Regions from separate parts of the Homo sapiens genome. Here region 1 is linked to region 2. The links come from fine-mapping of genetic effects on gene expression. A gene starts in region 2. The other region holds a variant in brackets. All regions are shown on one strand. Distances are from middle to middle.

Evidence for each region. PIP is the estimated chance that this variant, and not a neighbour inherited with it, causes the effect.
Region 1: its variant is fine-mapped to the expression of MVB12A in whole blood (INTERVAL, PIP above 0.99).

Annotation. Positions count from the first base shown.
Region 1 is chr19:17,396,332-17,401,571 of GRCh38, reverse strand. No RefSeq gene overlaps it. Among named protein-coding and RNA genes, the nearest start is that of CCDC194, 4.8 kb to the right of the region's middle. RefSeq lists a cis regulatory region at 2,032-2,596. The variant C/T (reference allele first, on the strand shown) is at 3,249.
Region 2 is chr19:17,417,440-17,422,918 of GRCh38, reverse strand. It overlaps MVB12A (multivesicular body subunit 12A), which reads right to left and starts at 2,872. Exons shown (of 9, transcript NM_138401.4): 1 at 2,694-2,872; 2 at 2,508-2,606; 3 at 2,285-2,381; 4 at 461-587. The coding sequence starts at 2,783. It also overlaps the pseudogene HMGB3P29. RefSeq lists silencers at 2,546-2,775, 2,916-3,125 and an enhancer at 3,286-3,335.

The DNA.
Region 1 (5,240 bases), 21 kb after region 2:
AAAAAAAAAAAAACCCTCTGGCCAGGCACAGTGGCTCACGCCTGTAATCCCAGAACTTTGGGAGGCCGAGGCAGGTGGATCACTTGAGCTCAGTTCAAGACCAACCTGGCCAACATGGTGAACCCCATCTCTACTAAAAATACAAAAAAATGGCTGGGCGTGGTGGTTCATGCCTGTAATCCCAGCACTTTGGGAGGCCAAGGTTGTTGGATCACAAGGTCAAGAGATCCAGACCATCCTGGCGAACACGGTGAAACCCTGTCTCTACTAAAAATACAAAAAATTAGCCTGGCGTGGTGGCATGCACCTGTAGTCCCAGTTACTCAGGAGGCTGAGGCACGAGAATCGCTTGAACCCGAGAGGCGGATGTTGCAGTGAGCCGAGATCCCGCCACTGCACTCCTGCCTGGGCAATAGAGCGAGACTCTGTCTCAAAATAAAAAAAATTAGCGGGGGGTGGTGGGTCGTGCCTATAGTCCCAGCTACACAGGAGGCTGAGGCAGGAAAATCGCTTGAACCCAGGAGGTGGAGGTTGCAGTGAGCTGAGATCACGCTACTGCACTCTAGCCTGGGCGACAGAGCAAGAGTCTGTCTCAAAAATAAATAAATAAATAAAACCAGGCCTCCACTTCCATGGTTCCTACTGCTGTCCCAGGGAAGGGTCCCCAAATACCTCCCCTGCCACAGACCCCCTGGCCCTCTTGCCCCCTCACTTCCCCTTGCTCACCACCTCCACCTTTACTGATCCCAAGTTCCTTTTTGCCTCAAGGCCTTTGCCCAAGCTCTGCCTGCTGCCTGGAGCACCCGTTCCTCACTCCCAAGGTCTAGGGCAGGGTCTCAGCCTCAGCAGCATTGGTGGTTTGGGCTGGATGGTTCTCTGGGTGGGGACCATCCTGTGCATTGTAGGATTTTGTTTTTTGTTTTGGGTTTTTTTTGTTTGTTTTTTTGAGATGGAGTCTCACTCTGTCTCCCAGGCTGGAGTGCAGTGGTGCGATTTCAGCTCACTGCAAACTCCGTCTCCCGGGTTCAAGTGATTATCCTGCCTCAGCCTCCCGAGTAGCTGGGATTACAGGCACCCGCCATCATGTCCGGCTAATTTTTGTATTTTTAGTAGAAACGGTGTTTCACCATGTTGTTCAGGCTGGTCTTGAACTCCTGACCTGAAGAAATCCACCCGCCTCGGCCTCCCAAAGTGCTGGAATTACAGACATGAGACACGGCGCCCAGCTGCATTGTAGGATATTAAACGGCATCCCTGGCCCCCACCCATAAATGCAAGTAACACCCTCCCAAGTTGTGACAATTAAAAATGTTTCCAGGCTGGGCATGGTGGCTCATGCCTGTAATCCCAGCACTTTGGGAGGTCGAAGGGGGAGGATTGCTTCAGCCCAGGAGGTCAAGACCAGCCTGGGCAACATAGGGAGACCTCCATCTCTACAAAAAATTTAATAATTAGCTGGGCATGGTGGCACACGCCTGTAGTCGCAGCTACTTGGGAGGCTGAGGCAGGAGGATCGCTTGAGCCTGGGATGTCAAGGCTGCAGTGAGCCAAGATGATGCAACTCCAGCCTGGGCAACAGAGCCAGACTCTGTCTCAAAAGAAAAAAAAAGTCTCTATATGTTGCTAAGTGTCCCCGGGAGCAGGGTGGGCCTTCACTTCTGTGGCCCTGGCTTGCAAAAAAGCCAAAGCCGCTTTGCAACTACTAAGCTATTTCATCCTCACCAACAGCCCCGGTGAGGCCTAGGGTAATTACTGGACTTTTTCAGGGGTTTTTGTTTTTTTTGTGGTTGGTTTGTTTGTTTTTTGAGATGGAGTCTTGCTCTGTTGCCCAGGCTGGAGTGCAATGGTGCGATCTCAGCTCATTGCAACCTCCACCTCCTGGATTCAAGTGATTCTCCTGCCTCAGCCTCCCAAGTAGCTGGGACTACAGGCGCCCACCACCACGCTGGGCTAATTTTTTTTGTATTTTTAGTAGAGACGGGGTGTCACCGTGTTAGCCAGGATGGTCTTGATCTCCTGACCTCGTGATCCGCCCGCCTCAGCCTCCCAAAGTGCTGGGATTACAGGCGTGAGCCACCATGCCTGGCCTTGTTCAGGGTTTCAAAGCTCGTTGGGCAATTAACCCTCCACATTCTGTGGATTTCCTTTTGCCCAGGAAACAAACGCTCCCCACGTGACCTCCTCCACTCACCACTCCCGACTTGGGCCATGGAAAGGTCCCCAGACTATGCTGCTGCTCCACCCACCCCCACCCCTACTCACACTCCCTCCCCCACTCTCCCCCCACAACCCCCACCCCCATCCTGCCTGGGCTGTATTTTGCTGATAAGATTAGCCCAATATTGTGGATTCAACTCCCAATCCCCCCACACAATGGCCTGGGTGTAAATTTCCCTACTTCCTAAAATGTCCCATCTTCCCTCCCTATTTTGTCCTTTTCCTGAGAGACCTGACTCCAAGGCTGTGACCCACCCAGGGGTTGAGAAGCTGACGGCTGTGGGGTTCTGCAGTCCCCAGTGGGAATTTGGCAGTGACCAGCCACTGCTGAGTGTCCCTGCTCTGGGACTCGACCTCTCTGAGCTCTGATTTCTTTCTTTTTTTTTTTTTGAGACAGGGCCTCTCTCTGTCACCCAGGCTTAAGTGCAGTGGTGCGACCTTGGATCACTGCAGCCTCAATCCCCTGGGCTCCAGCAATCCTCACACCTCAGCCTCTTGAGTAGCTGGGACCACAGGTATGCACCACCATGCCCAGCAAATTTTTTTTTTTTTTAAATAATAAAGACAGGATCTCACTATGTTGGCCAGGTTGATCTTGAATGCTTGGCCTTAAGTAATCCTCCTGCCTTGGCCTCCCAAAGTGCCAGGATTACAAGCGTGAGTGAGCCACGTCCACACGTCCAGACACAGCTCATTTCTTTTTCTTTTTTTTTTTTTTTAGACAGAGTTTCACTCTTGTCACCCAGGTTAGAGTGCAATGGCATGATCTCGGCTCACTGCAACCTCCCCTTCTTGGGTTCAAGCAATTCTCTTGCCTCAGCCTCCCGAGTAGCTGGGATTACAGATACCCACCACCATGCCTGGCTAAATTTTTTTTTTCTTTTTGAGACAGAGTCTCGCTTTGTCGCCCAGGCTGGTGTGCAGTGGCACGATCTCAGCTCAGCCTCCCGAGTAGCTGGGACTACAGATACCCGCCACCACACACAGCTAATTTTTGTATTTTTAGTAGAGATGGGGTTTCACCATGTTTG[C/T]CAGGCTGGTCTCAAACTCTTGATGTCGTGATCCACCCTCCTTGGCCTCCCAAAGTGCTGGGATTACAGGCATGAGCCATTGCGCTGGCCAATTTTTGTATTTTTAGTTAAGATGGGGTTTCACCCGTTGGCCAGGCTGGTCACAAACTCCTGACCTCAGGTGATCCACCTGCCTCGGCCTCCCAAAGTTCTGGGATTACAGGCATGAGCCACCATGCCCGGCCCTAATTTTTTTTATATTTTGTAGAGATGGGGTCTCACCATTTTGCCCAGGCTGATCTCAAACTCCTGGGCTCAAGTGATCCTCCCACCTCAGTCTCCCAAAGTGCTTGGGTTACAGATGTGAGCCACCATGCCAAGCCTGGTTAAAAGAGTTTTTTCCAGGGCAAAGTGTGAGGGCAGAGTCTATCCAGGGCCACAGGGACACCAAAGAATGAGGATGAGTGCCTCTCATTCAGGGAAAAGTGTGGATTGTTTGTTTGTTTGTTTGTTTGAGATGGAGTCTTGCTCTTGTCACCCAGGCTGGAGTGCAATGGCATGATCTCGACTCGCTGCAACCTCTGCCTCCCGGGTTCAAGCGATTCTCCGTCTCAGTCTCCCGAGTAGCTGGGATTACAGGTGCCCGCCATCACGCCCGGCTAATTTTTGTATTTTTGGTAGAGACAGGGTTTCGACATGTGGGTCAGGCTGGCCTCGAACTCCTGGCCTCGTGATTCGCCCGCCTCGGCCTCCCAAAGTGCTGGGATTACAGGCATGAGCCAGCTCGCCTGGCCTGGATCCTTTATAAAGCCACAAACAGAGGTGCTGAACAGAAATACATTTCCCATGCAAAGGCTAGAATACAGATAGGAGATTAGATTGGCTACTATTGACTATGTCCTAAGGGGGTTGCTTACACATTCTGTTGTAAAGAGGTGACAGTCACAAGGGTCTCTATCTCCAACAACATTTAGTCTATGCTTGAATGAAGACTAGGAAGTCTAGTTAATGTGGGATATCTCCACACAAGAAAGGCCAGGGGTTGGGAATGGGGTGGCTCGGTGCTCACAGTGGTGGTAATCCCAGCATTCAGGGAGGCCCAAGTTGGGGCATCGCTGGAGGCCCAGGTGGGGGCATCGCTTGAGCCCAGGAGGTCAAGGCTGCAGTGAGCCGTGATGGCACCACTGTACTCCAGCCTGGGTGACAGAGTGAGACCTGGTCTCAAAAAAAAAAGAAAAGAAAAAATAAAGAGGCCAGGCGTGGTGGCTCACCCCTGTAATCCCAGCACTTTGGGAGGCCGAGGTGGGCAGATCACTTGGGGCCATGAGTTCGAGACAGCCTGGCCAACATAGTGAAATCCCATCTCTACTAAAAATATAAAAGTTAGCTAGGTGTGTTGGCAGGTGCCTGTAATCCCAGCTACTTGGGAGGCTGAGGCAGGAGAATCTCTTGAACCTGGAAGGCAGAGGTTGCAGTGGGCTGAGATCGTGACATTGCACTCCAGCCTTGGCAACAGAGCAAGACGCCATCTCAAAAAAAAAAAAAATTAGCTAGGAGTGGTGGCAGGTGCCTGCAATCCCAGCTACTCAGGAGGCTGAGGCAGGAGAATTGCTTGAACCCAGGAGGCAGAGGTTGCAGTGAGCCAACATTGCATTCCAGCCTGGGCGACAGAGCAAGACTCCATCTCAAAAAAAAAAAAAAAAAAGAAAGAAAGAAAGAAAGAATGAATGAATGAATACAAGAAAAGAAAGAAAGGTTGATTCAGTTTCCAGGGCTTAACTATTACCCCTTGACATAATAAATCTGGAAGGTCCTAAAATTTTATTTTATTTTTTACACGCCTAAATTCTGGACCCACCAAAAAAGAAAACAATTACTTCTGATTCTTTGAGTTTTCATTAACTGAACTCATATCACAGGCAGAAAGACTAAAGTCTATCAACATACCTGAATAGACTTTTTTTTGTTTTTTGAGACATGGTCTCACTCTGTTGCCCAGGCTGGAGTGCAGTG
Region 2 (5,479 bases):
GAGTGCAGTGGCGCGATCTCAACTCACTGCAACCTCCGCCTTCCAGGTTCAAGTGATTTTCCTGCCTCAGCCTCCCAAGTAGCTGGGACTACAGGCGTGTGCCACCATACCCGGCTAATTTTTTGTATTTTCAGTAGAGATGGGGTTTCAACATGTTAGTCAGGATGGTCTCGATCTCCTGACCTTGTGATCGGCCCGCCTCAGCCTCCCAAAGTGCTGGGATTACAGGCGTGAGCCACCGCGCCCAGTCCTGTTATGTCTACTTTAGACACCAAGTCACTGACTCCTAATGACAGTCCTACAAGATGATATATATGTCCCGGTTTTAACATGCAGAATCTGAGGCTCAGAAGGTAGAAGAAGGAACAGGAGACCTCAGGGGTGTCCTTGAGGGTCAGATTGGTGAGATCATGAGTTGGGAGGGCAGGGAAGGTGGCTAGACACTGGGGGGTGGCCCTACCCTATTCGAAGGTATCCAGGCACTGTCTTGGTCTTCCCACTCAGCCGGACATCAAACACAGCCGTGTCCGTGGCTCCCAGGGGCAACAGCTTCACACACATGCGTTTCTTCTTGGACACAGAGGCCTCTGGGAGTGGGGGGTAGGGGAGTGAGAGAGGGAAGCCAGGCAGGGGTGGGAAGGCCCAAAGATGACTCTAGGATGAGGCTCGCCAGGGTGCTGTTTAAGGCAGCCACATGGACAACATTGGGGATGGGGGTGGGAGGAGTGGTTAAATCATGAATGGTATAGATGAAGGAGGGGATTCCATGCAGCCTTTAGGAACCGCTGGAGTAGGCTGATCTTTGGTGATATGAAGCTGCATTCATGGGGTGGCTAGCTGTGGAATCGGACAGAGCTGGGTGCCCATCGTGGCCCTCAAAACTTACTTTCCATGAGCCCTCTAATCCTATAGAGGTTGGACAACTAGCACCCATGAGCCAAATCTGGCTCAAGGTCTGTTTTCTTTTCTTTTCTTTTTGAGACAGAGTCTCACTCTGTCGCCCAGGCTGGAGTGCAATGGCGCAATCTCAGCTCACTCCAACCTCCGCCTCCCAGGTTCAAACAATTCTCTTGCCTCAGCCTCCCAAGTAGCTGGGACTACAGGCGCCCACCACCATGCCCAGCTAATTTTGTATTTTTAGTAGAGACAGGGTTTCACCATGTTGGCCAGGCTGGTCTGGAACTCCTGACCTCAGGTGATCTGCCCGCCTCAGGCTCCCAAAGTGCTGGGATTACAGGTGTGAACCACCACACCAAGCCTAAGGCCTGGTTTCATACAGCTGATGTGTTAAGAGTGATTTTTACATTTTTAAGGAATTGTAAAAAAATTGAATATGCAAAACACATCATCTGCCCTGTAAAGCCTAAAATATTTACTATAAGGCCCTTTACATAAAAGTTTGCCAACTCTAAGAAAAAATAAAGAAAAAAAGTTTGGCCGGGTGCGGTGGCTCACGCCTGTAATCCCAGCACTTTGGGAGGCCCAGGCAGGTGGATCACCTGAGGTCACGAGTTCGAAACCAGCCTGACCAACATGGAGAAACCCCGTCTCTACTAAAAATACAAAATTAGCCAGGCGTGGTGGCGCATGCCTGTAATCCCAGCTACTCTGGAGGATGAGGCAGGAGAATCGCTTGAACCCGGGAGTCGGAGGTTGTGGTGAGCTGAGATCGCGCCATTGCACTCCAGCCTGGGCAACAAGAGCGAAACTCCGTCTGAAGAAAAAAAAAAAAAAAAAGGTTTGCCAACTCTAGTATGAATGAATATAGCCTGAGTCAAATAAAAATGACAAGAAAGGGTGGGAAAGTTCAGGTGGGGCTGGGAGGGCTGCACTAGGGTTGTGGGCCCAGAAGAGGAGGGGTAGGGAAGGGTGAAGGTGACATCTGACGGAGGACGGAGAATGAGCTACAAAAAGGAGAGAAAAAGTGCCCCAGGCAGAGGAAGCGGCGTGTGCAAAGCCTGGAAATGAAAAAGAAAACTGCGCAGTGGTTTTGCTTGGCTATGGTGTAAAAAGACACAAGTAGCACAACAGTAGTGAAACAGGTGGCGTGGACTGAACACTTAACTCGAGGATGCAGGCTGTGCCAATCATATCACACATTTTGAATCAGGACAGGGGATGTCGGTCCACCCTAGGGCAGGGCTCTGAGTCCTCAGCCAACCCTGTCATCACCCCGTGTGCCAGGGGGCAGCCGAGGCTCAGATACCGCGCGCCCGTCGTCCCTCCTCCCCCGCTCCTCCCTGCAAGGGACCCGGACAACTCTCGCCTCCGAAGCAGCCCTTACTGGAATCCATGGGGTCGCAGACGGGGGAGAAGCCCAGCGGCAGGGGGCTCTTGTCCACCACGATCTGGATATCGGCCACCACGTTCTCCTGCGGGTTCTGGGGGTGGAAGGGGGACACGGCGAGGGTGGCTAGCAGCGGGGACAGCGCACCTGGCATAGGGCACCGTGAATGGGCAGGGGAGGTGGGCAGACCCTGGTGGTTCCGAAGGTGGGCACCTCTTACCTCTAGGCTGCCCAGAGAACTAAGGCACAGGAAGTAGCCAGATTTCTGCGCGAAGCTCTTGCCAAAGCTGGCGGGTGCCCCCTCGACGGTGCAGGAGATCTACCGGGAGGACGCGGGTCAGCGCCGGACTCCCACCCCACAGCGACTGCCTCCCCCATTCGACCCCCGCCCCTCGACGCCGCTCACCGCGCTGAACCCCCGCGGCGGGGGTGCAGAGGCCGACGACCAGGCCAGGCCAGCCAGCGGCGCCGAGTCTGTCCCGGGTACGGGATCCATCCTGCGAGCCGAGCGCCGAAGGCGGGGTCGCGGGGCACAGCCTCGAACCTCGGAGCGCCTCCCGACGGCAGCGCTCGCGACCGAACTACAACTCCCAGAAGGCCATGCGGGGGGGGGGGGCGGAGATTGCCCGGAAGCGCAGTATACGCGTGCCCGAGGAGCTGCTGGCCAATGGCGTGGGGAGGCGGAGCCTCGCCACCACGCGTCGCCAGGGTTGCGCGCGTGAGCGATGATGGCGGAAAAAAAGGTCTTGCCGGCTTTCCGCGCCCAGCAACTTCCGCCGGAAATGCTACGGCACAGGACCAAGAGACTCGTTCTCTGCAAGTCTGCACTACGTTCCCCAGAATTCCTTCCGGCCTCAGCTGCTAGTCTAGAAAAAAGCTCGGTGCTTAACGGAAAAGTTGGGAGCTTTGTGGCCGCGCGCAGTGGCTGACGCCTGTAATCCCGGCACTTTGGGAGGCGGAGGCGGGCGGATCATGAGGTCAAGAGATCGAGACCCTCCTGGCCAACGTGGTGAAACCCCTTCTCTACTAAAAATGCATTGTGAAGAATCTGCAATTCCAGTTCTGGGAAATCATCCCAAAGGAAATCATCTGTGGGATACGCAGCTATTGATTTAAAGAGCGAGTACTATGGACCATCATGAGCTTTGAAATCTTGGGTATAACTTGAAGATTTGTTCACAGGCACAATACGTTTAAAAAGCGACGTATAAAAGAATTTATTGCCTGTAGTCCCAGCTACTGAGGATGCCACCAGCAAACCGAGTTACCTCCCCACTTTGTGTAGGTGGCAAAGAAGGAACATCCAATCGGAAAAGGCAATCAGGTTTTATTCACTGGCCAGGAATGGAGAAGGAGAGGCTCTCACTCTAACTGCCCCTTCTCCCTCAACAGTAAAAAGCATAACGTTTTATTGTTTCTTCCCCTGGGTACAGGAAGGGAGAGGAATGCTAGCATGTGCAGGGTGGGACTCCAGACACGCAGGCTCAATTCATGAGCCTCAATTCCTGGGTTGTCTTCATACAACCCATCTACACAAAATGGAGATTTTCTTTTAAGAGAAGGAATTTTAGCATTATAATTATATATTGATGATCTAAAGTCGACTAGAGGTCGTCTGTTCCAGTTTGTGGTGATTTAGGGATCTTATCTTCCTCTGGTATCTGGTCAGGGGTCAAGAAGGTCTGGGGACATCCCTGGCTGTCTGCAATCTTTAAGCAGCTGTGCCTTTTTTTTTTTTTTTTTTGGACTTACAATAAGAAAGAGAACTTTCCCAGTTATTTTATCAGGGCTGTCATGGCAACAGGGTAACAGGGAGGCTGAGGTGGGAGGATCGCTTGAGTCCAGGAGTTTGAATCTAGCCTGGACAACATAAGGAGACCCCAGTGTTTAAAATGAAAGAAAGAAAGGGAAAAAAAGTATTTACTATAATAATATGCTTTTAAGCCGGGCACAGTGGTTCACACCTGTAATCCCAGCACTTTGGGAGGCCGAGGCGGGCGGATCATCTGAGGTCAGGAGTTTGAGACCAGCCTAACATGGTGAAACCCCGTTTCTACTAAAAGTACAAAAAACTATCCAGGCGTGGTGGTGCGCGTCTGGAATCCCAGCTACTAAGGGGGCTGAGGCAGGAGAATCACTGGAACCCGGGAGGTGGAGGTTGCAATGAGCTGAGATCGCGCCATTGCACTCCAGCTTAGGCAACAAGAGCGAAACTCGTCTCAATAATAATAATAATAATAATAATAATAATAATATGCTTTTTTACACCCATTGGGGGAAAAGTTTAGAAAAATAGCGAACAAGTGTCCTGCGCTGCCCAGACTAGCAAACAATACAGTCAGGATGGCTAATGGTGACCCCAAGAAACCAAAGGGCAAAATGTCTGCTTATAGTTTTTTTGTGCAGATGTACAGAGAAGAACATAAGAAGAAAAACCGGCCTGGCACAGTGACTCACGCCTGTAATCCCAGCACTTTGGGAGGCCAAGGCAGGCGGATCATGAGGTCAATAAATTGAGACCATCCTGGCCAACATGGTGAAACCCCGTCTCTACTAAAAATACAAAAATTATCTGGGCATGGTGGCAGGCGCCTATAGTCCCAGCTACTCGGGAGCCTGAGGCAGGAGAATCGCTTGAACCTGGGAGGAGAAAGTTGCAGTGAGCGGAGATCGTGCCACTGCACTCCAGCCTGGGCGACAGAGTGAAACTCCATCTCAAAAAAAAAAAAAGGAAGAAGAAGAAGAAAAACCCAGAGGTCCCTGTCAATTTTGCAGAATTTTCCAAGAAATATTCTGAGAGTTGGAAGACAGTGTCAGTGAAAGAGAAGTCCAAATTTGATGAAATGGCAAAGGCGGATAAAGTACACTAGGATCGGGAAATGAAGGATTATAGAGCAGCTAAAGGGGAAGCAAGAAGAAAGAGCCTAATGTCCCCAAAAGGCCACCGTCTGGACTCTTATTTTTTATTTTATTTAATTTATTTATTTTATTTTTTAAAATTTATTTATTTATTTATTTATTTTTTTGAGACGGAGTCTCGCTCTGTTGCCCAGGCTGGAGTGCAGTGGCGCAATCTCGGCTCACTGCAAGCCCCGCCTCCCAGGTTCAAGCTATTCTCCTGCCTCAGCCTCCAGATTAGCTGGGACCACAGGCGCGTACCACCACGTCTGGCTAATTTTTGTATTTTTAGTA